Linked DNA regions of Homo sapiens: regions 1, 2, 3, 4 and 5 are each linked to region 6. Evidence: fine-mapped expression QTL. A gene starts in region 6. Each other region holds a variant in brackets. All regions are shown on one strand. Distances are between the middles of the regions.

What was found. PIP is the estimated chance that this variant, and not a neighbour inherited with it, causes the effect.
Region 1: its variant is fine-mapped to the expression of ZCCHC24 in whole blood (INTERVAL, PIP above 0.99).
Region 2: its variant is fine-mapped to the expression of ZCCHC24 in whole blood (TOPMed, PIP above 0.99).
Region 3: its variant is fine-mapped to the expression of ZCCHC24 in whole blood (INTERVAL, PIP 0.98).
Region 4: its variant is fine-mapped to the expression of ZCCHC24 in whole blood (INTERVAL, PIP 0.94).
Region 5: its variant is fine-mapped to the expression of ZCCHC24 in whole blood (TOPMed, PIP 0.98).

The regions. Positions count from the first base shown.
Region 1 is chr10:79,410,178-79,415,248 of GRCh38, reverse strand. All of the region lies in intron 2 of ZCCHC24 (zinc finger CCHC-type containing 24), which reads left to right. Among named protein-coding and RNA genes, the nearest start is that of ZCCHC24, 33 kb to the left of the region's middle. RefSeq lists enhancers at 1,332-1,840, 1,841-2,351. The variant T/G (reference allele first, on the strand shown) is at 2,204.
Region 2 is chr10:79,387,603-79,392,673 of GRCh38, reverse strand. The region is part of intron 3 of ZCCHC24 (zinc finger CCHC-type containing 24); the gene reads left to right. Among named protein-coding and RNA genes, the nearest start is that of PPIF, 43 kb to the right of the region's middle. RefSeq lists a cis regulatory region at 1,359-1,859 and enhancers at 2,015-2,124, 1,785-2,370. The variant G/T (reference allele first, on the strand shown) is at 2,813.
Region 3 is chr10:79,763,338-79,768,408 of GRCh38, reverse strand. It overlaps NUTM2B-AS1 (NUTM2B antisense RNA 1), which reads left to right. Exons shown (of 7, transcript NR_120613.1): 6 at 2,085-2,138. Among named protein-coding and RNA genes, the nearest start is that of NUTM2B-AS1, 61 kb to the left of the region's middle. The variant C/T (reference allele first, on the strand shown) is at 2,838.
Region 4 is chr10:79,569,575-79,574,645 of GRCh38, reverse strand. No RefSeq gene overlaps it. Among named protein-coding and RNA genes, the nearest start is that of SFTPA2, 12 kb to the right of the region's middle. The variant C/T (reference allele first, on the strand shown) is at 2,316.
Region 5 is chr10:79,416,932-79,422,002 of GRCh38, reverse strand. The region is part of intron 2 of ZCCHC24 (zinc finger CCHC-type containing 24); the gene reads left to right. Among named protein-coding and RNA genes, the nearest start is that of ZCCHC24, 26 kb to the left of the region's middle. The variant G/A (reference allele first, on the strand shown) is at 1,948.
Region 6 is chr10:79,442,547-79,447,617 of GRCh38, reverse strand. ZCCHC24 (zinc finger CCHC-type containing 24) reads left to right here and starts at 1,994. Exons shown (of 4, transcript NM_153367.4): 1 at 1,994-2,423. The coding sequence starts at 2,178. LOC105378383 (a long non-coding RNA gene) reads right to left here and starts at 1,377. Exons shown (of 4, transcript XR_946104.4): 1 at 1-1,377. RefSeq lists silencers at 1,562-2,071, 2,082-2,141.

The DNA.
Region 1 (5,071 bases), 32 kb after region 6:
TTGCAGGCCTTCCTGGAGGCTGGGGAGTGACCTTGATGACCTTAGCAACCTCCCTTGAAGCAGCCTGGAGGTTTTGAGCATGTCAATGGGAGGACGGGAGGGGCTGGCTTTGTGAGCCTAGCAACTCAGTGTGTCTCACTGTGTCTTAGCCTTCATGGTACCCAAGATCATTAGGAATACCCCAGGGGCAGAAGTCCTCTGAGACAGATGCGGTGAGTCAGGGACAGGAAACCTGGACCCAAGGGGTCCAGGTAGAGGAAGCAAGTAGAGGCTTGGGAGGCCTGACATTGATGAAGAGCCTGGGGACCAGTGCTGTGTATCCTTAGGCCAGTTACTTGCAGTCTCTGTTTCCCTATGTGTAATATGGAGGAGAGGTTAGACAAGATCAGTGATTCCATCTCGGGCTTCACATTAGAACCACCTGGGTTTTTTTTGGTTTTGGTTTGGTTTTTGGTGCTAGAAATTTGAATTCAGTAGATCCAGGGTGGGCCTGGCCAAGGGCATATTCCTAGCTCCCCAGGTAATTCTGACGTGCAGCTGGGCAAAAGCACCATTGCCAGGTCTGAGATGGTGGGGTGCTCTGGCAGCTGTGGTGGCTGCAGGTGATCATAACCACAATTATCCTCCTGAGGTCCTGGGAATGCAAGATTACAAGGTTCCGGGAGACTCCCAAATGAACATTCCAGAGGTTCTAGATATCCAGAGGTTCCAGATGTTCAACCTCAGATTCCCTAGGTCATGTGACTGCAGCTTTATTATTCTGAGAAGTGAAGCTTCCCACAATGGAGGATTCTGACACTTGAGTGTTCTGGTTTTGTGACTTTAAGAGTGTGAGATTCTATAATCATTCTGTATACCTCAAGTACGTGCTTCTGAAACCTTCCGTGTGTTTCTGTGTTCCAACTGCAGTTATTATTCTTCTCTAAAATGAAGATTCTCCATGTCTGTAATTCCAACACATTCATTATCCCAAATTCTAGAGACTCCAAGAACTTAAGCTATTGTGGCACTAATATTTTTTAAAATTCTAAATTCAGCAACTCTGTGACCTGTCATTCCATCTGGGCAGTTGGCCGCCAAGGCTTGGGCCCAGACTTTGTCTCCTTGAGACAAGGTGGTGATCGTATAAGCTGGGACACGTGCCCCCTCACCTCCTTGGCCTGGAGAGCCTGTCTTGGTGGAAGGGGTGAGGGTGGGGAGAACAGAGACCCCACGGAGCTCTCACTTCTTTGGCTCTTCCTCCAACACTGGCTGTAGAGGACTGGAAGGTGGAGCAAGTGTGAGGGGCACATGTGGCCATGCGGCAAGGAGGGCAGCAGGTGGACATACAGCTACATCCCCGAATTGCTGCTTGTATCCACCCATCTCACAGCAAAGCTGTGAATTCTCTGTGTCAGACTGGCTTAGACATTAGAGGCTATCACATCCGAAGCACCTCCCTAAACTCTCTCTCTCTCTCTCTCTCTCTCACACACACACACACACACATGCGCACGCACATATACCCTTTTTCCACCTAGGAAAACTAAGGCCCAGAAGGAGGAGGTGACATGCCTGATAGAGCTGGCATCCAAACCCAGGGCCCTGAACTCCCGGTTGTCATTGCATGGTCCTTTCCAGCTAGTCAGGCCCAGGTCTGGCTTTCTGCACAGAACCATCAGCTTTCTATAGCTGACTTTCAGGTCCCTCCAAGGGGACAGGGACCAGCCCGGTGACTCAGGATTACACATTTAAAGCCTGTAGCCTGGCGGATTTCACTAGGCCCAGGAGAGGCTCCCCCTGCCCCCGCATGACCTCCTGGCCGTTTCCTGCCTGCCTGACCACAGTCTTCCGTTCCACTCCCCCAGGACGGGTGCCCGCCTTGTGCCAGTGCACATCAGGCTCAGAGGCCAGGAGGCAGAGGCTGGGCTGGAGTCAGGCGTGGGGAGGGGTCCCGCCACTCACTCACTGTGTGACCTTGAAAAAGTCTCTCCACCTCTCTGGGCCTCTCCATGCTGTGGGCCGGTGGATGGTAATTGACAGAGTTACTGTGAGGATTAAATGAGACCCCAGGGGAAAACCCAGCATGCTGGGAGGGGAGGGGCAGAGGCTGGTCACATCCACCGCCCACTGGTCCCCTCAGCACTGAACCCATTTTGGATGAGTGGCTTGTGTTTGTTGAAGGTGTCTGGGTAGACTTCCATATAATCCTTCAGAGATAAAA[T/G]GATGGATTGCAGACTCTCCTGGGCTTTCAGAAGGTTGGCTGGTAGAGGAGATAGAGTCCAAAGGCCTTGGACACCTGAGATTTAGGCAGATGTCCAGAAAATGGTGATGATGATGTTGATGGTGGCTATTGTTAACTGAATTCCAGCCATGTGCTTGGTACTCATGAGCTCCTTAAAGCTTCTCGACTGCCTGCCTGATCGATCTTATTATCCCTACTTACACGGGGGAAACCAAGGCTCAGAGCATTTCAGAAACTTGTCGAAGCTCTTGCCGCCAGTAATGGCTAAGTTGGGATTCAAACCCAGGTCTCCAGGACCGCACAGCCAGAGCTCTGTTTCACTTCGTACTCAGCTAGAAGAGGGGACGCAGGGCCACATGATGGATGGTGGCCATCTCTCTACGTGGCTGCAGGCAGTCCACGGCCAGGGAAATAGAAAGACATTTTCTAGAAGAGATGCTAGTGGTTGCCTGTTTTCCTCCCTCGGTGGGATTCTCCCAATTTTCCATGTGGCTATTTTTATCACTTTTAGAAATCTGGAGCTGCCTGTGGCTGCCCAGTCCCTGGAGATGGGTGGAACACACAGGGCTCTGCACAGCCACCCACACCATGTACGTACGCGGGGCTGCCAAGGGGCGAGGGTGTACACGGGCATGTCCGCCCCTCACCGATGCACCTGTGCACACTCGCACAGAGGCTCATGCCGCTGCAGGCTGCTGCCAAGTCCAGGGGACCCAAGAGCTTAGCAGGAAGCTCCTGAGCTACCTCCCTTGGGGTTCTGGAGCCATGGGTCTGCCTTGGCCACTCACTTCCTTGTCAGTTGACTTAAAACGGAGTTGGCAGGTCATGCCACGGTGCGTTCCGCTCGCTCCCTGTGTGCATGCATGCGTGTGTGCATGTGCAGCTGCAGACCTGTGCACACCCAGGCCCAGTTCAGGGCACAGGCTCAATGCCCCCTGTGGAGGCGTAGCAGGAAGTCCTTGCTCCAGGGCTTCTAAAAGCCAAGACTCCCCACGTGGTTCCTCCCACTCGCGAGATTCTGGCCTTCTGGGCTTCTGGGAGCCAGGGAAGGGCAGGAGAGACAGCCAGGGCTCTGTAAGGGGCACATGTGGGGTGCTCCAGGGACTGGGGACGGTGGACTTGCTGGGGGTCCTGCCCTGGCAGAGCAGGTCTCTGGGGCTGAGAAACCTTCTCAGAGTGGGATGGCAGGGTCCTGGGGCTGAGCATGGCACCTCCAGGAGGGGCCGAGGCCTCCTGGAGGTCTCCTGACCCTTCTTCTGTCCTCACAGTTGCTTCAGACTCTCCCTAGCACTGGCCTGGGATCCCAGGAGGCCTGAGCTTGGCCCTGCCTCTCACAGGCTGTGTGGGCTGGAGTCCCCTGGCCTTGGCCTCCTCCTCTGGAAAGTGGGGCACCCGTGGGCAGTGGAATGAGACTTTGGCAGTCCTGCTCTGTGCATATACTGGGCACACTGAGCCCTGGGAGGCTGGGGCCACCTTTCCCTCTAGAATCTGGTTCCATCCTCTCCCTCCTGGGTTTTCTTCCGCTGCAGACTCAACACCCCTTCCGTTGAGTCCTCCTTCATGGCTCTGAAGAATTGTTTTGGGGCCCAGCAGGCAACTTGGAACAGTGGGGAAAGCCCTGGCCTGCCACCGTGGCCTGTGTTCACATGGTTCCTGCTCTGAGCCTATTTGCTCACCTGCAGGGGAGTGTGTGTGTGTTTAATTATAGCACCATGCCAGGATGCCTGGCCACATTAGACTGTAAATCTAAAGACAGAGGTCAAGGCCTCTTTTTACCAGCCCCGAGGTGATTTTCAAATCAGCTTTAGGGTGGATCATACCCCCAAGGGCACCTTGAGCAGGCTCACATGACAGGTTTATAGGCGATTCCTGAGGACAGGAGCCAGGGCAAACAGTTATCATGAGGCTGCCATCCATCACTGTTGCCTGCTGTCCAGTGACGGCCAGTCCTCCTTCCGTCCATCACTGCCGGCACAAGACACCGTCATCACCTTCCCTTGCTCCACCCTGGCCTTGTCCCCCAGTCAGAGCCAGGGCAACCATGGGCCAAGAGGGGAGCTCCTGCCTCAGCCCCCACAGCCCCGCAGCTGATTGAGGCCACACACCTGGGAGTTGCTCTTGAGTCCTTGCTCTCCTCCCCCAAGGCTAGCCCAAGTGCTGCTGACTCAACCTCCTGCCATCTCAGGGGTCTCTCACTCTTCTCCCCTCTGCCACCCATCCCCAGACCACACCCCCACCACCTCTCCCCAGCAATGTGGCAGCACCCCCCTAACTGGTCCCCCCATGTCCAACCCCTCTGTCCACTCAGCAGCCAAAGAGATCTCACAATGCCAGGCAGACTTTCGCATTTTCAGCGCTTCCCTGGCTTCCCATACTCCTGGGCTGATATTTAACTCTAAGATATGGTCTAGGACCTGGACTGGCCTGGCCTCCAAGCCTCAAGCCCTCCATGCTTCCCGTGGTCTAGCCCTTTGCACAGGCTGCTCCAGCCCCACAGGGCCCTTTCCACTGTGACGTCACTCCTCCCCAGCCATGCTGGCCAGATGCTCCCAGAACATGGGGCTCTGCTCATCCTGAGCACATCCCAGAAGGCCAGATCAGTGTTCAAGCATGCTACTTTTGTCTGACTGGTCATCGTGTATTTATTGAGTACCTACTATGTGCCAGGTGCTGCTCCAGGCATGGGACATTCCATAGTGAACAAGAAAGATGAGGAAAGAATGCAGTTCCCAATCTTGCAGGATGACAAATAGTAAAGAAATTGACACCAATGGATATGCTATGGTGGCAGGTCATATTCAAAGACAGTTGTCAGGGATGGTGTCTCTGAGGACATGACAACTTGAG
Region 2 (5,071 bases), 55 kb after region 6:
CTCTTGAGGAGAGTTTGATTGTTGAGAGAATCACAGCAGTGGCCGCAACTGGGAAGGAGCCCTTGGGCTGGGTGTTGTGGAGATAGTAGAGCTTGGAGCCCAGTGCAGTCTGGTGAGAATGATCTAGAAGACAGCAAAGGGCTGATGGTGCAGGGGCAAAACGGGGGATGCTTCACCCATCGGCACAGGAGGGAGGGAGAAGAGGGGGTAATTAGGAAGTTTCATGGGTTGGATGGTGCAAAGAAGAACCTCACATCCAAGGCTTCTGTTTTCTCAGTGAATGGGAGACAAGCGGGCTGGGGCGGGCTTGAGGAAGGATGAGCAAGGAAGCAGCCTGCTAGGGAAAGCTGGCTGGACCACCCAGCCGCATCCCAGGCCCAGGGAGGTGTGCAATCCTAATGCAGTGGCAGGCATCAGCCTAGTTCCGTGACTTGCTCCAGCACAGCTCGCCTGGCAGGTGCAGGCCAGGCCTGGTGTACGGAGGGTCCACGGGGCAAAGGTTGGCTGGGCGAGCACTCCAGAGGGCAGATGGTTGGGGGGTGGGCCTATTTGTAAAAGTATGATGACCGTGCTTCATCGTGGGGCATCGGCAGGGAAGGGAAGCTAGACGGGACCGGTGGAGAGGGAGGCCGGGTGGGCCTGTGGACTGGGTGGAGTCTGGGAGCCAGTGGAATGGAAGGAGAGAACGAGGGGGCAGAGATGGGTGGTTTCTGAAGAAGCCCAAGTCTAGGGTGTGGCTGAGGGGTGGTAGGAGGGAAAGGTCACTGTCGATGAGGTAGTGGGGGATGGAGGAGCCAGGGGTGGGATGGGCCATCCATGTGTACTGAGTCACCGCAAAGGACAAGCAGACAGAGGAGGCAGGAGGGGAGAGCGCTCCGGGAGCTACTGGGGGAAGGCTACCCTGAGGGAGAGATGTAAGACAGCTCTGATGGGGTAGAAGGTCAGTAGACCGGGGGCCCGGAGGATAGCTTGGAGCCTGGAAGGGCAGATAAGTGGCCTGGGAGGGAGCAGGGGAGGAGGGAAGGCAGATAATGGTGGCTGGCTGGGGGCAGGAGTCAGGAACAGCCCAGTTTCTGCAGGGCCTCAGATGTATGGGGGCTGCTGGGGTCTGTGCTGACAGTCCTGGGGGCTGGGTCCTTACGACCCCCACTGTGACTTAAGCAGAGAGACAGGGCCCAGCCTGTGCACCAAAGCCCCACAGGAACCCAGTCTCCGCAGTGGCTCCAGCCCTCAGCCCCTGCCCCGATACTGCCCCAGCTTCTGGCTGGGCAGGGCTCCTCACCATGCCCCTTCCACAATGCCAGGCCCATTCCTGGCTTGTGTCACCATCCCCAAGCTGGCAACGGCCCCACCTGCCTCGCCATCTCCATCCTGCCAAGCTCAGTCCCAGCACAGCTCCCTGACCACCTGTCCCCCATCTCCACATTCAGGATCAGCTCTCCCAGGACCCAATCTAAAGGATCCCTCAAGAGTGTGTGGCTGGGCCCTTCCCCTCTTCCAGTCATTAGGCCACTGTTGAGCACCTACTGTGTGCACTGGGGACACTGAGGCCCCAAAAGGAGACAGGACTTGAGTAGTCAAGTGACCAGTGACCAGTCAGCTGGTGTCAAGGGGCCCTGGAACTCAGGTCTCCCACCGCCCAGGGCTCTATCTCCTCTCCTGAGCTCCCAAGCTGGGAGGGGGTATGAGAGTGGTGCCTCTCTATCCCCCAGCTGTCGGGAGCCTTTGAAGAGCCCAGCGGCGGTGCTCCCCATGTTGCCCCGCGGTGGAGAGGGCTGGTTTATTTCTCCTGCCCCACAGAGCCCTGACCTGTGTGGCCTCCGTCTCTGGAGAACCCCCCACTTCCCCACTCTCCTGGCCGCCACATCTGCTTCCTGTCGGCCTCCAGCTGCAGCTCCCCCTACCGACTCCGGTCCCCTCAAGAAGAAAACACCACTGGGCCTTGCCTTGCTGCAGGGAGTGGGGGAGGCCCTCCACCACAGTCAGCCCCAGCTGCAGAGTGTTTTCCGTCTGCCGAGGGGAATGTCTTGACAGCTTCCCCAGGCTCCTCGCCCAGTGGCAGGCCAAGCAGGGCTGAGCAGTCGAGCCAGAGCCCGTGCCCACAGAGGGAACTCCCACCATGGGGTCATGGCCAAGGAGGGGGCACAGCTCAGATGAGCCCAGGAGGGTGCTGGCAAGGATGTTTCAAGATCATTTCACCCGGGACTTCGCTGTTTCCCCTGCCCCCATGCTGCCCCTAACCCTATATAACACATGATACCAATACTGGCCAACATTTTGAATGCTCTCTATGTGCCAGGCACTGTTCTAATCCCTTTGCATAGACTAATTTACTCTTCACAGCAACCCTATCATGTAGAGTTAGCCTACAGACTTAGCCCCCATTTTATGGAGGAGAAAATTGAGTCCCAGAGAAGTTAAGTGATTTGCTAAAGGTCACACAGCAATCACTAAGTCTTCTGGAGCTTTTTATGGTTATAAAATACTTTAAGACAATCATCGCAGCTGGGCACAGTGGCTCATACCTGTAGTCCCAGCACTTTGGGAGGCCAAGGTGGGAGGATTGCTTGAGCCCAGGAGTTCAAGATGAGCCTGGTCAATATAGTGAGACCTCGTCTCTATAAAAAAATTTTTTTTAAACAATTAGCCAGGTATGGTGGTGCATGCCTGTGGTCCCAGCTACTTGGAAGGCTAAGGTGGGAGGATTCACTGCACTCCAGCCTATGTGAGAGTGACCCTGTCTCTAAAAAAGACAGTCAGCCAGGCGCAGTGGCTGATGCCTGTAATCCCAATACTTTGGGAGGCCAAAGTG[G/T]GTGGATCACTTGAGGTCAGGAGCTCAAGACCAGCCTGGCCAACACAGCGAAACCCCGTCTCTACTAAAACTACAAAAATTAGATGGATGGTGGTGTGTGCACCTGTAATCCCAGCTACTTGGGAGGCTGAGGCAGGAGAATCACTCGAACCCAGGAGACAGAGGTTGCTGTGAGCCGAGATAGCATCACTGCACTCCAGCCTAGGCAACAGAAATGAGACTCTGTCTGAAAAAATAAAAATAAATAAAAAATAAAAATAAGACAGTCATCTTATTTACTTCTCTATCACACAGACACACACACACACACACACACACACACACACACACACTAGGAAAAAGTCAGTGAATGTTATTAACCTCTCACCCAGATCCCAAAAGGGCAAGTTGAGGTTGTGGAGGAGAAAGATCCTTCCCAACAGCCCTTAGCTGATAGGCGGCAGAGCTGGCATGCAAAGCTCTGTCTATCTGACTTTGGTGATATCATGTCATATGGAGACGTTGCAGAAGACACCAGACACAGAGTTTTCCAGAACAGTCTTCAAAACAAGCTGGCAGTGACCCCTTCAGTCTCCATGGAGGTTCTGCCCTCAGTCCTGGGCCTGCAAAACCTCTGTCAGCCCCAGAGATGAAGACTCAGAAGGCAGATGCCAGTCAGGGTGGGTGCAGCTGGCAGGTGCCAGTGAATTCCCAGGGGAGAGCGCTGTGCCTGTGAAGACACGTTCCCCTCCATCAAACACAGGAGGGTGCTGCCCTGGGGACAGAAAGCCAGGGACTCAGACGGGCTGGGAGGGAGTGCTGCAGTCTGGGGTGGGCACTGGTCACAAGCTGGCCCTGAGCCCCAATACAGTGTAGCCAGTGGGGCCAGCTGCAGGCGGTAGGCAGTATGTCCCTGCAGTGCAGGGCTTGGAAACAGCATGTGTGGCTTTCCAGCCACCCTACCTACCACCTCCTCACTGCAGGCCCCAGGGATGTCCCTAACGTCTTGGAGCCTCAGTTGCCTCATCTGTGGAAACTCCCTTCCCCATATATCTGTGACCTGTTTCCTCCCTGTGCCACTCACAGGGAGGTGGTGACATTAGGTGGCGACATTAGGTGGCCTGACTTAGGTGGCAGTACTTTGCCACATAATGTGTAAGCCATGGGGAGTGAGGGTTGTGTGGGGCCTGCTGAGTCTGGCCTTTTTGGCCTGTCCTGGAAGACTGGGTCCAGGAAGAGGCCCTGGCCAGTCAAGGGGGTGGGGGCTGCAAACCAGCTTTGTTTTGGTGTGCTGGAGGGGACACTTCACGACTGTACTGATCAGACCGTCCTTTGGGAGCCAAGCAGAGTCTGTGTGGCTGGGATCTCCAGGATGAGGTGACAGGGACCCAGATTCTAACTCAAGGTGGGAAGTCTTCTTACAGTGCAGGCAGTAAACTGAGCGGTGGGCTCTGCCAGCAGGCAGCTCTCCAGCCCTGAGGGCACCCAAGCCCCAGATGGAGGAGCTGTTGGAGGTCTCCCTGGGACGTCCAGGAAAGCAGGGAACGTGCCCTTCCTAGGTCCTTTCACCTTGGGATCTTGGCTTAATTTTGATAGCCCTCCACCAGCTGGTGTCCCCCTCCCACCGATAAGACAAACGACAGACAGCTTCTGCATGCCGGGCTGTTTGTATTCATTATCTCCATTGAGTTGTCTGGTGAGAACAAGCCCATGAGAAAGCTGTTATCAGCATCCCTGTTCACAGATGGGAGCATGGAGACCAGAGGGGACAGGTGGCCTGCCCAAGGTCACACAGCTCTTAGGTAGCAGAGCCGGCATTCGAGCCCAGGTCTGACAGGAAGTCCAACTCCTCTCTTCCCTGGCCAGGATGAAAGCTGGACAGGGAAGCCAGTCACCTGAAAGCCTCTTGTGATGTGGTTGACGTGCCTGTCTTTCCCTCCAGGCCTTGGCTTTGTGACTTTAAGCCTGGGAGCACAGGGATGGGTTTTATGACCCCTGGGCCAGGGGCAGAAGGGTGGTCCCTGGATCAGAACCCTCCCACCACAGTCTCCCCACCTGCCTTCTAGAACCTTCTGACTCTTCCATTCCCAGACCGCTCTGAGTGTCCTCTTGGGGCCAAGACTGTGGATTGGGTGGAGAAGCCAGTATACTACTTTTGAGCCATTCACAGCCTGGCCAGGGGGACAGAGCACACCCTCTGCTGCCCTCCCCTGTCATCCGGGCCATGGTCTGCAGTCCAGGTTCTGCCCCCTCTCCTGGGCATGTGGCCCCAGGCTGGCC
Region 3 (5,071 bases), 320 kb before region 6:
TCTTCTCCTTTCTCCCATGTAAGGATGCTACAGTGAGAAGATGCCAGGTCCTCATCAGACACCAAACTTGCTGGTGCCTTGATCTTGGACTTCCCAGCCCTTAGAACTGAGAGAAATAAATATCTATAATTTATAAATTACCCAGTCTGTAATATTGTGCAGCACAAAGTGACTAAGACATCGTATGTATACTGATGACATACAGATTTAGTCCTCATCTCTTCCTTCAACTGCAGGCCTCTGTGTCCAACTTCCTTCTTGACTCCTCCACTTGGATGAATAATAAATAGCCGCCTCAAATATTTTAAAGTCCAAAACAAACCCTTCATTGAACTGTTTGTTCCCTCTTTTCAACCATGCCTTGTCCATGTGGACACCCCCACCCCAAAAGTCATCCTTGATTTCTTTTTCTTTACCCCCTCTGCCCACATCCAACCCATCAGTAAGTCTTGTCAGTTCTACTTCCAAATTATGTTTTTAATGTTATTCCCATTTCTCAGTTCCACTATCACCACCACGACTATTTCTTGCCATAGTCTCATTTCTTGCCATAGTCTCATTTCTTGCCATAGTCTCCTAAATGGTCTCCCAGTCTCTAGTCTTGCTGTCTTATAAATTCCTCTCCAGTCAGTAGCCAGAGTTATCTTTCATAAAATATAATTTTAATTTTACAAAAAAAAATACATGTGCAGAGTTTAAGCAGGCAGAGTTCAACAAATGATACCACCAAAAGGAAACAAACAAACAAGACATACCAATAGCTTCCAGATAAATAATTTTTAATGGCTTCAGCTCAGAGTTATCTTTTCATTTGTTTGTTTTTGGTTAGGTTTTTTGAGGTACAATTTGCATAGAGTAAAATGCAGCAATTCACATATTTAGGTATACATTCCAGTGAGTTTTGACAAATATATTCAGTCATGTAACCACTATGATAAAAATATAGAATATTTCCTTTACCCATAAGATATAGATGGATATAGATATAGATATAAAAGATACAAGGTCTCCTTCTGTTGCCCTTGAACTCCTGGGATCAAACCTCCTGCCTCAACCTCCCAACTAGCAGGGATTACAGGTTTGAGCCACTGTACCCATCACCATAAGTTATATTTTAATACATTAACTGAATCATGTCAACTCTTTAGGCAAAAAGCCTTCAGTGACTTTCTTCTAACTTAGAATAAAATTCAAACTCTTTGTCAGGGTCCTTGAAGCCCTACAAAACTCACTTCCATTTACTTCTCTGAACTCCCCTAATAACAAGTCCCCTCACTCAGCAGGGCCCTGCTAAGGAGTTTCAATCTGCTTCATGGACGTTCAACCTGCCTCTCCCCTTGTCTGGAATGATCTTCCTCTGATGTTCCATCCACCTTACTTTTTCTGATCTCTTTATTCAGTGTAGCTTTCAATTCACCTCAAGTAAGTTATTAATTATTTTATCCTGTTTATTTCTTATCACAATTTGGGATAATTTTGTTAATGTATCTTTTTGCTTGTTTATGTCTTAGACCACCAGAATGTAGCAAGATAAAGGCAGGACCTTGGTCCATTTATGCAAGACTATATTCCCAGCTCCCATGATATTATCTATTCTACCACACAGAGGGTTCTTCATATTAGGTTGAACTATTTGGAATTACCCACATATGACCATTTTTGACCTACAAGAATGGCGATTTCATATGGTTCATTTGGTTTATAAATATTTGCTGAATAAATGAATGAACTGAAATTTTGAGTTGATGCCACCAGGAAGAGAATAGACAGTTATATTTGTGCGCAGTTAGAAAGAGTTCGCTGTCCTGAGTTCACTTGATCACTTTTTATCCTAAATTGCCACCCGCTACCGTCGTAGTTTTCCACATAATAATTTTCTATTAGGAAAATTATTCATTAAAACAGATAACATGGGTCACTTAAGTGTAAAACTTAAAGGTAACACTTTTTTAAGGAAATCTACCAGAAGAAAATCTTTTTCTAATTTTTAAAGTTTAATGAAACATAATTTACATACAATGTAAATGGCTAATAATTTACGTACGATAGCTAATTTTTAACTCTTCATGTTTTTTTGTTGGCAGGCAACGTGTTGGACCTTCCGGAGCTTCTCAGAAGACAGAGGGTTTTCTTTTGAGGTAAATTTGATAGTACATTTTGATAGTACGGGAGGCGATACGGCATGGTGACAGAAAAGCGCCGGCTTGGTTAGCAGGACCACCTGGCAGGGCTGCAGGCTGTGCCACTTACCAGGCAGGGGACCTTGGGCCAGCTGCTTGGCCTCACTCACCCTGTTTCTCAGCTGCAATTGGGATGAACAGACTGCCTGCTTCGGGGTTGCCTAAAACTCACATTGGTTAATGATGTGAAATGCTTAGCGCAGTGCCTGGCATAGAGAGAATTCTCATTAGATGATACCTCAGCTGGGCTTTAGGAGCTACAGAAGAAGCTGCATCTCCATGAGCTCAGCGTGTTTCTAGCTTTCCTTTTTGTTTTCTATTCAACCTTTCACCCAACTCAGCTTCTCAATCCCTAAATGACAAAGGTTTGGGAAGGAAGACTTGGACCGAGGCTTGCATTTGTTTCTGAGAATTAAACGTTATGTTTTCTTCAATCTAAATAGGTTTGCTTGTACAGCCTTGTTGAATGGTTTTTTTTTTTTTTCTCCATGATAAATGACTCTCAACTTCTTTTCCCTCATCTAATTGCTTATCTACATACAATGCCTGGAAGGAAATAAATGTAATGGCCCGTAGCAACTGGCCTTCAGGTATCAAGTTTAAGTCCCTTTAAGCAGAACAGCAAATTGAGCACAGAATGAACTGGTTTCATGGTAG[C/T]GTACTGCAATTAGATGCAAGAATAGGGAAAGCAGGGTGCTTCAAGTGGTGACACAATTAGTATAGCACTGAGGGACTTCTCTTTCCACTTCTTCAACTCCGCCTGCATTCCGCTGGCTGAAGAGTTGATGACATCCCTGAAAAATCTTCCCTCTCTTGTTTCTCTGATGCCACCTCTGTGTTCTCCGCCTCACTGGCCACACTTCCTTTACCTCCCAAACTTTTAACTCTGAGTGTCCCAAACTTGTCTCATCACCTACCCCTGCTGCCCAGCTCCCCAGCCTGTTCCCCTTCTGACACGGGCACTCTCCTTCTGCTCTCTTGGGAGAGAAACAATGAAGGCCTATTTGGCACTTTTATTTCTATTCAAGGAACCAGACTGTGAACAAGTTTACCATTTAGTCCTTTGGACTGTGTCTTGAATTCATCCCTCTTCTCCATTCTCACCAGCACCATCATCATGATGGCTAATATTTCCTGAGCACCTTTCATTCAGGCATGATGCCAGGTGCACCAACTTACTTAATCCTCATAGCCACCACCTGAGCAAGCTCCTGTTTTATAAATGGACCAGTTCTTGTTGCTGTTGTACAAGTTATTTTCTTTCTATAACGTCCTCCTTGTCCTCCTTCCACATTCTTAAAGAAACTTTCCCTTCCTTTAAAGTACTCAGGGAGCCCTGCATTGCTTCTTGAAGCCTTCTCCAGCTTCATCATCTCACAGTGGTCTCTCTTTTCACTAAATGTCCAATATGCTGCACATAAGTACCCCAAAGTTAGCACAGAATTGTTCCATGGCTGTCATATATGTTAAAAATCATTAAAAGTTCATTTTTTCTCCCATTATGGGAAGGATACATGCTCCTACTAGTAAATTTAGTTGGTAGAAAAAAATTATCACTATCTAGACTGCTTTCCCTTTAGTCTTTATGCATAGCTTTCTGTCTGCCTATTTTTACTTTGTGTTTGTAACTTACTATTATAAAATATGCATCTCTATGTTCATTGTCAACATTATTTACAATAACATGGAGTGGATTTACATGTATTCTCTATATTTGGATTAAAGGAGATAGAGTATGTGAAATTAAATGGGAGAAGTATCTGATACATAACAGGCAATACAAATATTATCACATAGCGTCAATTTATTTGTGAATATTGAAAGCTCCAAAAAAGAAAAAAAGTTTTTTTTTAATTCCCGTAATTACTTATTGCAGTATTGTGTTCATACAAACTGCTCAGTCATTTTGGAGAAATAACAATTTTTTTCCTCATCATGAAGTAAGGTATGCTCACTGCAAAAAAAATCTAGAAAATAAAGAGGAACATGCTAAAGAAAAGAATACTCCCATATAATCTCTGTCTTCATAAATAATCTTTTGTAACGCTTATACACTGCTGGTGGGAATGTAAATTAGTTCAGCCATTGTGAAAAGTAGCGTAGCAATTCCTTGAAAAACTTAAAATAGAATTACCGTTCAACCCAGCAATCCCATTATTGGGCATATACCCAGTGGAATGTAAATCATCCTGCCATAAAAACACATGCACATGTATGTTCATTGCAGCACTATTCACAATAGCAAAGACATGGAATCAACCTATATGCCCATCAATAGTAGACTGAATAAAGAAAATATGGTACATATTCACCACAGAATACTAAGCAGCCATAAAAAAGAAAAAGATCATGTCCTTTGCAGCAATATGGATGGAGCTAGAGGCCATTATCCTAAGCAAACTAATGCAGAAACAGAAAACCAGATACTGCATGCTCTCACTTATAAGTGGGAGATACACCATGAGAACACATGAACACAAAAAGCGGAAAAAGAGACACCATGGCCTACTTGAGGGTGGAGGCTGGGAGGAGGGAGAGAATCAAAAAACTTCCTATGGAGTACTATGCTTATTACCTGCGTGATGAAATAATCACTTTGAACATTGTCAGTACATTATCTTCTAATCTAGACTCTTTTCTATGTTCTATATGCACACAGAAATACACATGCAAAGCTGAACACATATGTGAAACAAAATTCAGACACTCAAATTTTCCGCCAATACATGATAAAATCTTGCACAATAGCTTCCTCCACAGAGGAAAATGTCTTTACTACATCTTAAAAATGGGGTAAATGAATAGTTAGGCTCTTCAGTGTAATAATCATGGTAAATATTCTCAATGTGCGAAAATACAAACAAAAGACTTTCTCTCCCAGCAAATTTAGA
Region 4 (5,071 bases), 130 kb before region 6:
TTGGATCCTGAGACTTTGCTGAAGTTGCTTATCAGCTTAAGGAAGATTTTGGGCTGAGATGATGGGGTTTTCTAAATATACAATCATGTCATCTGCAAACAGGGACAATTTGACTTCCTTTTTTCCTAATTAAATACTCTTTATTTCTTTCTCTTGCCTGATTGCCCTAGCCAGAAATTCCAACACTATGTTGAAAGGAGTGGTGAGAGGAGGCATCCCTGTCTTGTGCCAGTTTTCAAAGGGAATGCTTCCAGGTTTTGCCCATTCTGTATGATATTGGCTGTGCGTTTGTCATAAATAGCTCTTATTATTTTGAGATATATTCCATCAATACCTAGTTTATTGAGAGTTTTTAGCATGAAGCGCTGTTGAATTTTGTCAGAGGCCTTTTCTGCATCTATTGAGATAATCATGTGGTTTTTGTCTTTGGTTCTGTTTATGTGATGGATTACGTTTATTGATTTGCATATGTTGAACCAGCCTTGCATCCCAGGGATGAAGCCGACTTGATCATGGGGGATAAGCTTTTTGATGTGCTGCTAGATTCGGTTTGCCAGTATTTTATTGAGGATTTTCACATCAACGTTCTTCAGGGATATTGGTCTAAAATTCTCTTTTTTTGTTTGTGTCTCTGCCAGGCTTTGGTATCAGGATGATGCTGGCCTCATAAAATGAGTTAGGGAGGATTCCCTCTTTTTCTATTGATTGAAATAGTTTCAGAAGGAACGGTACCAACTCCTCTTTGTACCTCTGGCAGAATTCGGCTGTGAATCCGTCTGGTCCTGGACTTTTTTTGGTTGGTAGGCTATTAATTATTGCCTTAATTTCAGAACCTGTTATTGGTCTATTCAGAGATTCAACTTCTTCCTGCTTTAGTCTAGGAGGATGTATGTGTCTGGGAATTTATCCATTTCTTCTATATTTTCTAGTTGATTTGTGTACAGGTGTTTATAGTATTCTCTGATGGTAGTTTGCATTTCTGTGGGATCGGTGGTGATATCCCCTTCATCATTTTTTATTGTGTCTATTTGATTCTTCTCTCTTTTCCTCTTTATTAGTCTTGTTAGAAGTCTATCAATTTTGCTTTTCTTTTCAAAAAACCAGCTCCTGGATTCATTGATTTTTTTAAGGGTTTTTTTGTCTCTATCTCCTTCAGTTCTGCTCTGATCTTATTTCTTGCCTTCTGCTAGCTTTTGAATTTGTTTGCTCTTGCTTCTCTAGTTCTTTTAATTGTGATGTTAGGGTGTCAATTTTATATCTTTCCTGCTTTCTCTTATGGGCATTTAGTGCTATAAATTTCCCTCTACACACTGCTTTAAATGTGTCCCAGAGATTCTGCTACGTTGTGTCTTTGTTCTCATTGGTTTCAAAGAACATCTTTATTTCTGCCTTCATTTTGTTATTTACCCAGTAGTAATTCAGGAGCAGGTTGTTCAGTTTCCATGTAGTTGTGCAGTTTTGAGAGAGTTTATTAATCCTGAGTTCTAATTTGATTGCACTGTGGTCTGAGAGACAGTTTGTTGTGATTTCTGTTCTTTTACATTTGCTGAGGAGTGCTTTACTTCCAACTATGTGGTCAATTTTGGAATAAGTGTGATGTGGTGCTGAGAAGAATGTATATTCTGTTGATTTGGGGTGGAGAGTTCTGTGGATGTCTATTAGGTCTGCTTGGTGTAGAACTGAGTTCAAGTCCTGGATATCCTTGTTAACCTTCTGTCTCATTGATCTGTCTAATATTGACAGTGGGGTGTTAAAGTCTCCTATTATTATTATTGTGTGGGAGTCTAAGTCTCTTTGTAAGTATCTCAGAACTTGCTTTATGAATCTAGGTGCTCCTGTGTTGGGTACATGTATATTTAGGATAGTTAGCTCTTCTTGTTGAATTGATCCCTTTACCATTATGTAATGGCCCTCTTTGTCTCTTTTGATCTTTGCTGGTTTAAAGTCTGTTTTATCAGAGACTAGGATTTCAATCCCTGCTTTTTTTTTTTCTTTTTCTTTTTTGTTTGCTTTCCATTTGCTTGGTAGATCTTCCTCCATCCCTTTATTTTGAGTCTATGTGCATCTCTGCATGTGAGATGGGTCTCCTGAATACAGCACACTGATGGGTCTTGACTCTTTATCCAAATTGCCAGTCTGTGTCTTTTAACTGGAGCATTTAGCCATGATGTTAGCTGGTTATTTTGCCCATTAGTTGATGCAGTTTCTTCCTAGCATCGATGGTCTTTACAGTTTGGCATGTTTTGCAGTGGCTGGTACTGGTTGTTCCTTTCCATTTTTAGTGCTTCCTTCGGGAGCTCTTTTAGGGCAGGCCT[C/T]GTGGTGACAAAATCTCTCAGCATTTGCTTGTCTGTAAAGGAGTTTATTTTTCCTACACTTATGAAGCTTAGTTTGGCTGGATATGAAATTCTGGGTTGAAAATTCTTTTCTTTAAGAATGTTGAATATTGGCCCCCACTCCCTTCTGGCTTGAAGGGTTTCTGCCGAGAGATCCTCTGTTAGTCTGATGGGCTTCCCTTTGTGGGTAACCTGACCTTTCTCTCTGGCTGCCCTTAACATTTTTTCCTTCATTTCAACCTTGGTGAATCTGACAAACATGTGTCTTGGGGTTGCTTTTCTCAAGGAGTATCTTTGTGGTGTTCTCTGTATTTCCTGAATTTGAATGTTGGCCTGCCTTGCTACATTGGGGAAGTTCTCCTGGATAATATCCTGAAGAGTGTTTTCCAGCTTGGTTCCATTCTCCCCATCACTTTCATGTACACCAATCTGATGTAGATTTGGTCTTTTCACATAGTCCCATATTTCTTGGGGGCTTTGTTCATTTCTTTTTACTCTTTTTTCTCTAAACTTCTCATTTCATTAATTTGATCTTCAATCACTGATACCCTTTCTTCCACTTGATTGAATCCGCTACTGAAGCTTGTGCACGCATCACGTAGTTCTCATGCTGTGGTTTTCAGCTCCATCAGGTTATTTAAGGTCTTCTCTACACTGTTTATTCTACTTAGCCATTCGTCTAATCTTTTTTCAAGTTTTTAGCTTCCTTGTGATGGGTTTGAACATCCTCCTTTAGCTTGGAGAAGTTTGTTATTACCGACTTTCTGAAGCCTACTTCTGTCAGCTCATCAAAGTCATTCTCTGTCCTGCTTTGTTCTGTTGCTGGTGAGGAGCTGCAATCCTTTGGAGAAGAAGGGGCACTCTGGTTTTTAGAATTTTCAGCTTTTCTGCTCTGGTTTCTCCCCATCTTTGTGGTTTTATCTACCTTTGGCCTTTGATGATGGTGACCTACATATGGGATTTTGGTGTGGATGTCCTTTCTATTGATGTTGATGCTATTCCTTTCTGTTTGTTAGTTTTCTTTCTAACAGTCAGGTCCCTCAGCTGCAGGTCTGTTGGAGTTTGCTGGAGGTCCACTCCAGACCCTGTTTGCCTGGGTTTCACCAGGACAGGTGAACAGCAAATATTGCAGAACAGCAAATATTGCTGCCTGATCCTTCCTCTGGAAGCTTCGTCTCAGAGGGCACCTGGCTGTATGAGGTGTCAGTTGGCCCCTACTGGGAGGTGTCTCCAAGTTAGGCTATGTGGGGGTCAGGGACCCACTTGAGGAGGCTGTCTGTCCATTTTCAGAGCTCAAACACCACATTGAGAGAACCACTGCTCCTTCAGAGCTGTCAGACAGGGATGTTTAAGTCTGCAGAGGTTTCTGCTGCCTTTTGTTCAGCTGTGTCATGCCCCCAGAGGCGGAGTCTACAGAGGTAGGCTGTTGAGCTGCAGTGGGCTCCACCCAGTTCGAGCTTCCTGGCTGCTTTGTTTACCTACTCAAGTCTCAGCAATTGTAGACGCCCCTCCCCCAGCCAGGCTTGCTGCCTCGCAGTTCTGTCTGGGACTAGCAGTGGCAAGGCTCCATGGGCATGGGACCCACTGAGCCATGTGCGGGATATAATCTCCTGGTGTGCCATTTGATAAGACCATTGGAAAAGCACAGTGTTTAGGTGGCAGTTTCCCGATTTTCCCAGTACAATCTGTCACAGCTTCCCTTGGCTAGGAAAGGGAAATCCCCCAACCTCCTGCACTTCCTAGGTGAGGCAATGCCCCACCCTGCTTTGGCTCACCGTCCATGGGCTGCACCCACTTTCTGACCAGTCCCAGTGAGATGAACCACTTACCTCAGTTGGAAATGCAGAAATCACCCATCTTCTGTCTCAATCACGCTGGGAGCTGCAGACCAGAGCTGTTCCTATTCAGCCATCTTGGAATCCCATCCAGAATATACTTTAATACTTTAATATTTTAACATATGAAAACCTCATAACCTGACAGCTTTATGTACAAGAATGTTCACATCAGCATTATACATACTAAATTGAAACTGAAAAAATCACTGTCTGTCAACACCATAGTAAAGAACCAGTTGTCATATATTCATCTAGTAGAATATTGGTCAGCAATGAACACACTATTGCCATGTGCAACAACATAGATCAATCTCACACATACAATGGCGATCCAAAGTAGCCAGACCCCAAAATTCCCTAGTGTATAAGTATGTCCTTTATATAAATTTCAAGAACAGGGAACCTAATCAATGGCAACAGAGGTTAGAATAATGAGTTCCTATAGGTAAGAGAGAGGGCATAGAAACTGACCATACAAGAAGGTCTCTGTGGTGCTGGCAAAGTTTACTTTTTGACTGGTTGGTAGTTTTATAGGTTTTAATTTGTAACAACTCACTGAAATGTAAACTTATCTGTTATCTTTTTTGTTTATTATGGTGCACAAGTTTTTCCAAAAAGTTAAAAAGATAGTGAAGAATACATTACCAAAATTAAAAACAAGCAACCCCCAAGAAAAGAGTATAGTTATAATTAGGTCTATATGTGTTCATCTGAAAAGATGCCTGAGGGATGTAAGGGAAATCACTAATTGCAGAATTTGAATAGATGTCTGGATGTCTGAGGTATGTAACACTAGTTGTAGAAGAGTATCTGCAGTATGATCTTTTTGGTGCAAAGTAAGAGAGAGAGAGAATTTCTGAGTCTATTTCTTTGGAGACATTTGCTGCCACCTGAGAATTT
Region 5 (5,071 bases), 26 kb after region 6:
ATACTGGTGGGGAAACTGAGGTTTTCTCACAACACTGGGGCTAAGGACTGCCTGTCATAAAAAAATGTATAGAAGGCTGGGTGCGGTGGCTCATGCCTGTAATCCCAGCACTTTGGGAGGACGAGGTGAGCAGATCGCCTGAGGTCAGGAGTTTGAGACCAGCCCGGCCAACATGATGAAACCTCATCTCTGCTAAAAATACAAAAAAATTAGCCAGGTGTGGTGGCGCACACCTATAATCCCAGTTACTTGGGAGGCTGAGGCAGGAGAATTGCTTGAACTCAGGATGTGGAGGTTGCAGTGAGCCGAGATCGCACCACTGCACTCCAGCCTGGGCAACAAGAGCGAAACTCCATTTCTAAAATAAATGAATAAATAAATATAAAAAATGCATACAGGGAGGGGCAGAAAGGTAACACCACAGACAAAAAGCCCTTTGAATGTTAGACAGTGGAATTAGCAAAGAAAGTGTTATACTGCCACCCATTACTCATTAGCAAACATCCAGAAGGAAGGAAGAAAGGAAGAAAGGAAAGAAGGGAGGGAGGGAGGAAGGGAGGGAGGGGGAAGGGAGAGGGAGAAGAGGGAGGACAGACAGCATCATTCTGTGTTCCCACTGAGGAAGGACTGGGCCTAGGGCAGATGGCATAGCAGGGGATGGGTGCTGAAGGTAGCATTGCAGGGGGTTCTCCTGGAGCCTGGGCTGGCTGGCCAAGGGGCCTCAGCTGAGGTTCTTCCAGCACTTGGCACAGAACCTGGAATGTCGTGAGCACTCAGAGAATGTCAGCTGGGATGGGTGTTGCTGGGGGTGTCGTGCCTGCCGTTTGGCAGGTGGTGGCTTGGCATAGATGCTGACGTTAGGGTAGTGCCCCAAACCCAGTGTCCGGGCCTCGAGGCTCTCCTCCTTGCCCTGCCGAAGCCCTCTCCTTTCAGTGAGGTGCCTTCGAGCACAGCCCTGAAGCCAGCCTGCCTGCGTTCCACCCCTGGCGCCGCCTTGTAGCAGCAGTGCTATGTGCCTTTGGGAAAAATTCATTCAGTCTTTCTAGGCCTCAGTTTCCTCCTCTGTAAAATGAAGATATTAAAACATCCTACTTCATGGGATGTTGTGAGCTTAACCGAGTTATTTTATCTGAAGTGTTTATAACAGTGCCTGGCACCTTGCTTGCACTGCAAGTAGTAACTCTTAGGACTGTTAATTACTGTCATTATTATTATTATTATTATTATTTTGAGATAGAAACTTGCTCTGTTGCCCAGGCTGCAGTGCAGTGGCATGATCTCAGCTCACTGCAGCCTCCGCTTCCCGAGTTCAAGCGATTCTCCTGCCTCCTGAGTAGCTGGAACTATAGACATGAACCACCACACTAGGCTAATTTTTGTATTTTTAGTAGAGACAGGGTTTCTCCATGTTGGCCAGGCTGGTCTCAAACTCCTGGCCTCAAGTGATCTGCCCGCCTCGGCCTCCCAAAGTGCTGGGATTACAGGCGTGAGCCACCATGCCCAGCCTACTGTCGTTATTATTATGCCTCAATTCCGCTGTTTCAAACTGGCTTGAGAAGTCCCAGGGTTCTAAGAGACTGCTTCAGCACTGTGGGGATCCACAGAGGTGGCTGGAGCCCTCCCTTCCCACCCTCATTCCCTAAGGGAGGGGCTGCCTCTGGGAGGGGCTGCAGAGAGGCCAGGTGACAAGGCTGTGCTTTCTCAGGGGTCTTGGGGAGGGGACAGGGGAAGGCCCAGATGACTTTGAGTCCCCCAGGTTGTGCTGGGGGGACTCTGCTGTGCCCAGGATGGGTGCTGTGGGAGGAGGGGCGATGCACAGCTGGAAGGTGCCCAGTGCCGCCTGTGGGCTGTCAGTTCCCCTATGGCCCAGGGAAGAGGAATCTCTCTCCAAGTGCTTGCCTAGGAGCAGCTGCTGGGGGTGGAGCAGGGGTGGGGGATTGGAGGGGT[G/A]GGGCATGGAGTGTGAGGGCTCATGGGGAGCCACTTTTATATCCTTCCTGCTGCCTCTTGCCTGGCAGGAAAGAGCCTAGGAGGGCCAGTTTCACATCCTCAGCTGCCAGTTCTGCTTTTAGAAGAATTGCAGATGATAATTAGGAGTCCCCAGGAATCTCGATGGGTCAATGGCCTCACCTTCCCAGCCCTCTGCTTCTGAGCCTTAGGGACAGAGATGTTGGCAGAGCCTAGGAGCCAGGACCAGTCCTGGTCTTGAACTACCTGCAAGGCCTAGTGAATGGAATGCTGGAGCACAGCAAGTGCATCCTTAAGCTGAATAGCTCCAAGTGTCACCTCCTTTGGGAAGCCCTCTCTGATTTCTCCTTTCCTCCAAGCTCAGAGGGACTGGCCTCCTCTGAATGCCAGAAAGGCTCACTCACTCACTCATTTATTCCTCACCTGCCAAGGGCCTCCAGTGTGCCAGGCCCTTGGCCTGCCCCTCTCACATGGCTTTCCTTTGTCTTGGAGTAACTCAAGTGCCCTTTGCTGTGAAGACTCCGGGGAAGGTTCTGGCTGGGACATCCCTTGGTCCCTCAACCTCAGTAAGAACAGGAGAGCCCCAGGCAGCGGAGTCTCACTGAGCTGGACTCAGAGTTCACTTTTGCTCTTTCCCAGCTGTGTGTCCTTCGCCGTGTTGCCCACCTTCTCCCAGGCATCTGTAAAATGGGTTCACCATCCTTGCAGAGTGTGTGTGGAAAGCGTCTAATGCAGGGCTTGGCATCCCACAAGCACTCAGTAAGTAAGTGGCAGCCCTCACTGTTGGTATCACTTGTTAGGCCGTGGGGCTTCCTGAGCCAGATCTGCCCTCATTTGTAAAGTGAGGCTCATGTACCTGATGGGAGGGTTGGTGTGAGGGAGATGAGAAGCAGCCCGGATACCTGGGAAGCAACACCCACCGGAGCCCCTCTCCTTCTCCCTGACCCACCCCTGCAGCTGCTTAATTTCATGCATGCACGCAGACACATATGTGCACACATGCAAACGTGCGTGCATGCACACACCCCTTGGGCTTCTCAGCCTCAAGGCCTTGCTCACACTGTCCCCGAGTCTGCAATGCCTTTCCCGAATCTCTTCTCTCCTATCCCCCTTTCAGAGCCCAGCTTGAGCCCACCTCTCTCAGGGAGTCTTCCCCAACCATCCAGGGCCTCAGAGCTCTCCTCTCTGAACCCTAACTTGTCAGGACAGCACCCCTTCCCCAGAACCTGGTTTTAAGGCCCTCAAGAGGTAAGAAATCTCAACCAGGTTTCTCATCTTTCCCCCATCCCCATCTGGCCCCTAGGGGACAGAGAATGCCCCTCTTTGGGTGGGCTTCACTCTGCCCTGCCCCAGTCCTGGAAGGTAGCCCAGCCTGGGCCGTTTGACCTCTGCTCAGCCTTCTCATCCCCACTCCACCTGTGCTATGGCCTTAGCCAGTGACTCTCTCATCTCCCCCAGGTTCAGCCCAAACACGTCCTCTTGCATGGTGCAGCCCCTATGCCCTTCTATGCCCCATGTGCTCCTGCCTTGGTGAGTCGTGCCTAGCCCAGGGCCGGTCCTGGCACAAGTCTGTCTCCTACTTCCTGAGGTCACTTCCCAGGCGAGGTCTGTGTCTGCCTGGCAGGCAGAGGGAGCATGGCCTTGGGGTCAGAAGGCCCGAGCTCTCATCCCAGGGCTGTCTCTCTAGCTGTTCAACATTGGCCAAGTTGACCTTACCCTTGGGCCCCCACACCCCCATGCATGAAGTGGCATCAGCAATGAAGCCTGTCTCTCAGGGCTTCTGTGAGATCCAGAGGCGATCAGACAGGTGAACGCGCTTTGAGAACTGTGAAGTTATACCATTTGCTCCACTGCCCAGCGAGCAGCCACATTTGCTGAGATGATCAGAGGTGTGCGAGCGAGGGTGTTTAGGCCTTGGTGGCTGCTGTGAGCTGACCCCTGCCTCAACTGCCATGGGGTCTTGGAGGCATATTTGTGAGGGCAGCATTTTCCCTTTCCACCATGTCTGGGGTGGCTGCCCAGGGTGGAGCCTGTGTTGGGTGCCTCCTGCTCCCAGTGGCTTTGTGTGGAGTGGGAGGTGGCCCAGCTGGGGCAAGGTGGCCAGATCCCAGCCTGTGGGTTAGAGGACTTGGCACCACTGACCTGGCCTGACTTGGAGACATGGCTCCTCAACACACCGCCCCCACTCCCTCCCATTCCAAGGCTCAGGGCTCAGAGAAACGGGGCAGCAGGTGCAGGGAAGAAATGTGCATGGAATGGGGGTGAGGAGCCCGAGGACATCAGGCCTTCCTCATGCCTGGCTCACGGAGCACCTTCGTCTCATTTGCTGGCTGGGTTCTTACACTCACCTGGATGTCATCTGTGGCCCATGTGCCCACTCTTCTTCTCTTTCTTCATCTCTGTCTCTCATCCTTTCTTCCTCTTTTCTTTTGTAACAGATTACATAACTTGCCCCTGGTCCCACAGCTGGTTAGGATCAGGCCAAGTCAGTCTGACCTTAGGCCGTGCCTTTCCCACTGCTCCCTCTGCCCACAACAACGGATGGGGGTCCATCCTCTAGGACATGCTGTAGACCTGCTGATCTCCAGCCCTGGCAGAAATCAGGCTGCAGGAGGCACTGTGAACCCAGGCCTTCCTCCCTGCCTGGCTTCCTCCAAGTTCCCTGGCTGTGTGGGAGCCACAGGTCTCTCCCTGACAGGTTGGGGTGATGGTGAGGTGGAGGGGTGCCCCCAAAGCAGTAGGCATGATGACAAGGGGTAAAACCCAACAGGGGCCCATGCTCCTCTGCTCCTTCCTGGGGACTGTGAAGCTCAAACAGAGCCTTGTGCCCCTCCCTCCCGCAGGCCCTCTGAGCCCTCCCCATGCATCAGTCCTCCCTCTGTGTTCCCAAAACACCCTGCACAAACGGCTTAGTATTTTGTATTCTCTTTTGATTGTGATCCCGGGGAGGGGGAAGGCTGGCAGAAAATCACTTAGCGCAGCACCTGGCACATAGTGAGTGCTCAGCAAGTGTGAGCCATTGCGTTGCTGTGGCTTCAGTGCGCCATCCACAGTGTCTGCCGTGGTGCCCACTCTGAGCAGGGCCCCGTCATAAGGGAAACATATT
Region 6 (5,071 bases):
GGGGTACAAAGTTTCACTCTGTTGCCCAGGCTGGAGTGCAGTGGCATGATCTCGACTCACTGCAGCTTCCACCTCCTGGGCTCAAGTGATCCTTCCACCTCAGCCTCCTGAGTAACTGGGACCACAGGCATGCGCCACTACGCCCGGCTAATTTTTGCATTTTTTTGTAGAGATGAGGTTTTGCCATGTTTCCAGGGCTTGTCTGGAACTCCTGGGCTCAAGCAGTCTGTCTGCCTTGGCCTCCCAAAGTGCTGGGATTACAGGTGAGCCATTTGCAAGAACCGTGTACCTACTCTTTAAACAAATAGGTTTAATACTGTTTAAAAATATAAAGGGTACTGTATAGATGTGTTCTTGATGAATGAAAATATGAAGACATGATTGATACATATGCTGTCGTTTGTATTAATAACTGCAAATTGATAGACAAGATGGAGATCTGAGATCCAAGGGCCTCTTGGTTGGTGAAAAAGGGTGGCATTTGGTCATCACTGAAGGCCTTCGTGGTGCGAGCGACCATAGATGTGGTTAGGTGCCCTGCAGGTGATGTGAGTAACTCGTGGAGTGGGTGGCGGGGAAGAGCTGTCCTTTATGGAATATCTTCCGCTTACCAAACCCAAGCTGGGAAGCACACAAATGTCCCCGGCGGCGGGAGGATGACTGCTCCCATTTTACAGAGGAGAAAACAGGCTTGCTCGCAGAGGTTAGGCGTCATGCAGAGGTCATTCCGCTGGACGGTGGCCAAGCTGGCACTCCAACGCTGGGCGGAATGGCTCCAGAGCCAGACTGAAAGTGGGAGAGGTGACTCGGTCCCAGCCAGGCGGTGAGTTCCTCTGGGCTAGGTCCCCGGTGCTGGCGCAGCAAAGACCACCCGGAGAAAGAGACGGTGAAGGCCCCGGGGCTTCCTGGGGCGTCAGGCGGAGGCGGAGGCGGGGGCGGGGCTCCCTCCAGGCAGTCTTGGACTAGCTGAGTTGTCCCAGCGAGATGGGTGACAGCCGCTTTCCCGAGCTCCCCCGGCCCAGGCTGGTGTCCTGGCGACTCGCCAAGGCACCGGGGCGGGCTAGGGCTGGAGCCGGGGTGGAGGAAGAGGGTCGAGAAGCGAGGCGGGCCCAGAGCAGAAATAGGAGAAGGGGGGGGGGAGGGGGCGGGGAGTCTTTCCTGGGGCAGGAACCCGGGCCCCCCTTGGCGCAGCCGGCCCGCAAAGTGATTCTGCAGATGGAAGGAATTAAGTAGGAGGGGGAGGGTCCGATGGTGATAGCGAGAGGAGGGAGTTAGAAGTGTGTGCGTCTGTGTACACGCGTCTGAGAGAGGAGCGGGAGAGACAGGGAGAAACATCAGACCAGACGGAAATAGAAGAAAGGAGACAAGAAGAGTGAGAGAAAGAGAAGGACATACACACACACACACACACACACACACACACGGAGGGCGCCACATACAAGGACGACGGACACAGGAGACTAGTACTAGTCTAAGAGAGAGAGAAAGAAGGAGTATGAGAAAGGAGGGAAAATAGGAAAGGAAAAGTGAGTGAAAAACAATTGCAGAGGATTTGGAAAGAACGAGACAAGAGCGCTGACGACAGAGGGAGACGAAATTGATTAGGCCGGGGCTGCACTGAGCTCCCGGCAGCTCGGGGAGCTGGGTTGGCCGGGCTGGGACGAGGTGGGGCTTGGGCGGGGCCTCGCATGGGCGGGCCCGCGCCGTGCTGCATATGCAGATGAGCCTCACTCCCCTCTCTCCCCACCCCTGACGGTTCATATTCAACGAGACAGCCAATGCAGGGCGAGGACAGTGCCAGGCGGGGCAGGGAGTGGGCGGCGGGGCATCGTGGACCCCACCCCCGGAGCCGCCGCTGGAGGGGTCAGCCGCGAGGCAGATAGCGGATCGCCGGGCGGGGCGGGACGCAGTGGGCGGGGCGGAGGGGCGGGGCCAAAAGTTTCCTGCCCAACTTTCGCTGCCTCCTTCCACCGCCTGCGCGCGCCGGGGCCGCAGTCGGGGGGAGGCGGCGGCAGCGGCAGCGGCTGCGGGCAGCGCGCGGGGCGCAGGGCGCGGGGCGATCACCGTCGGGGCTCGGGAGGCGGGCAGTGGGCACAGGCTCCCCGGTGCCCGCCCCTCCGCTGCGGAGGGGGGCCGCGAGCGGGCGGCCGGGGAGGGGCCGGCACCGCCGCCACAAAATGAGCCTGCTGTCGGCCATCGACACGAGCGCCGCCTCGGTGTACCAGCCCGCCCAGCTGCTCAACTGGGTCTACCTGTCGCTGCAGGACACGCACCAGGCTAGCGCCTTCGATGCCTTCCGGCCCGAGCCGACCGCCGGCGCCGCACCCCCGGAGCTGGCCTTCGGCAAGGGCCGCCCCGAGCAGCTGGGCTCGCCCCTGCACTCCAGCTATCTCAACAGCTTCTTCCAGCTGCAGCGCGGAGAGGTGGGTGCCCCCGCGCGCCCCCGCCCACCGCCCCACCGCCCCACCGCCCCACCGTGGCGGGCCGTTCCCTGTCTGACCCGCTCTTCCTGGCCTGGCGCGGCCCGGCTCCGCATTGCCGGGCCCGGCTTGGCTTGGCTTCGTTCAACTCTGCCAAACTCGCCGCCCGAAGTCCCCGGGGTGCCGGGTGCGCGTCACCTCCCGGCTGAGCCCGGGCTGGAGCAATGCAGGCCGGGGCGGAGCTCTCCCGCCCCCTCTCCCTGCCAGGGCAGCCCTGCTCCAAAGGGGTTGGGGGAGGGAGTTGAGGAGGGGTTGTCTCCGGATTTTCTTCAGACAGCTGGGGTGCGGCCTGGGCGGGGAGCCCCTTCGAAGTGTCCTTCTCACGCCCAACCTTATCCTCGTCCTGGCCACCGCGGGCTGGGACCGAGAGTGCAGATTCTGCTCGGAGCTCCTCTGGAAGGGCCTAAAATCTTTTCTCCGACCTCTGCGGTTCCCGACCCGAAAGGCACCCTGGAGAGCAGTGACTGCCCAGAGGGCTTCTCCTGCTGTTCTCACTCGGGGACCCCAGATACGTCCTCCAGCTGCTCGCCCTCCCCCAGCCACATAGGAAGTGGTTTCTGAGGGCTTGACCCCACAGACTGCGCTGTCCCCAGCCCTCCCAGCCTCGAAGGAAATGAAAGGGAAATCCTCTTGAGCTCTTGGGAGGGGGGCTAGAAAGGGGGGGGGAGAGGTTCCAGCTGCCCAGCGCCTTCTGCAGAAACCTGGGCCGGCTGTGTTGCAAAGTCTGCCTGTTTGGTGGATTCAGTTACAAAGTTGACTGGGCAGCGCCTCTTTGCCAGCAAGATAAATACACAGATCGCCACCACCTCCCAGCCCTTTTTGAAGAGTCTCCAGGGCCTGCCCAGATACCACTCCTTTCCGTGGGCTGGACTCCTCCCCTCCCTCCATTTACTCCTGCCTCATTTGGGAATTTCAGACACCCATCTGTGGCCTTCACTTCCTCCCCTTGTGGGGGTTTTCTCTGCAAAGATGCAAGAGGTGTGTTCGGGGGAGGACACACATGGGGGTCACTTTCCTTCCAGACCTGGGCACACCGGTGAGTTTTAGGAGAGTCAGAGTCCTGAATGGGTTGGGGAGGAAAGCCTATGTACGCAAGGGTGTGCTGGGGGTAAGAGAGGGAGGCAGAGGGTCGCCCTTGAGTTCAACTCTGCCATTATTTACTAGGGGAGGCATGGACATATAAAATGCTGGCCCAAGGCCAACACTACCCAGGCTGACCTGTTGACCTGGGTGGGTAGAACAGGCGTGGGAGGGGGCTGGGTGCAGAGGAGGAAGATGAGTCTGAAAGTGCACCCTTTGGTGTCAGGCAAAAGCATTTCTATGCCAAAGCTCTTTGTAAACTGTAAAGCATTCTCTCCACGTGAGGAATGGTTCTTGGCTGGGGATCTTTCTTTCTTGTAAGAGACTTTTCTGCCTCTTCAGGGAATTGGCTTCAGGTGACCAGTGACTGGAGGACCGTTTGTGGGGTGTTTCTTTGGTGCATGCGTCTTTTCAGTTGTTTGTTCTCTTACCAAACATTTGTTGAGCTCTGGGCAGGACCCGGGGATTCACAGCCACAGGCTAGTGGGGGCCACGGATGAGTAAACAGACAAGGTGATAGAGGGTATGAATGGTGGGTGATTTGATGGGGGTGCTTGTGGGAGCCCCACGGGAGTTTCTCACCCTGGGAGAAGGGTGAACATGACCCACAGGTCAAGTGTGGACCCCTAATCAACCTCTTCTAGCCTCCCTCTGCTCCCCCTACCATGGTGGCATTGTTCCCCACCTGTGGGTCTCCCCTGAGAGGACCTGGGAGTTTGGAACCATCAAGAGTACCCTATAAGAATAGGATGTTGTGCTGCTTTTTGAAAATTTCTGGCATCCAGGATCCCAACCGGAGCTCAGTGAGAACTGCCCTCTGTCACTTCATTGCTGCGTACCTCAGTTTCCCCATAAAGTCACACAGTGTGAAAGGAGCAGGAAAAGGTTATACTGTATAGTGCAGTGGTGGGGAAATGTCTTTCACAACCTGACTTCAGGGAACCCCGTCTCTCTCTGGGCCTTAGCTTACCTATCTGTTAAATTTAGTCTCTGCTACACCCCAGGATGGTATATCTATAGTATTTGAGACCTGTTCAAACAAGAGAGGGCTGGGGGAGTCAAGAGGGGCTTCTCTGATGTTCACAGGCCAGTGGCTTCCTCGGAGGTGATGGAGGGCTGTGCCTGCTGACTTCCGGAAGGCTCTCTTGGCTTCAGGCTCACTCATCCTCACCCCCCACCCACTTTGCCTCCTAAACCCTCTCAAAGCCTCAGCTGTGTTCCTGAGGACAGGCCTTTCCTGCGCCCAGGGCTTAGCTGGTGACCTAATATGGCTCCAAAATAGCAACTGGCTGAGAAGGCAAGAAAAAATACCCCCCACCCCAATGCCACCAAGGGGCTGGTCGGAGAGGAAGCAAGTCGTGTGTGGGCCGGAGGGGACTCTACGGAGGGACCCAGGGGGCCCAGGAGCATCACCATTCTGTGCGAGGCCTGGCAGGCCCAGTGGCAGTGCCTGCGGATGTGACTTGCATGCTGACCACTGACCACGGCCTGTCTGCGCCAACCCCTGTGCC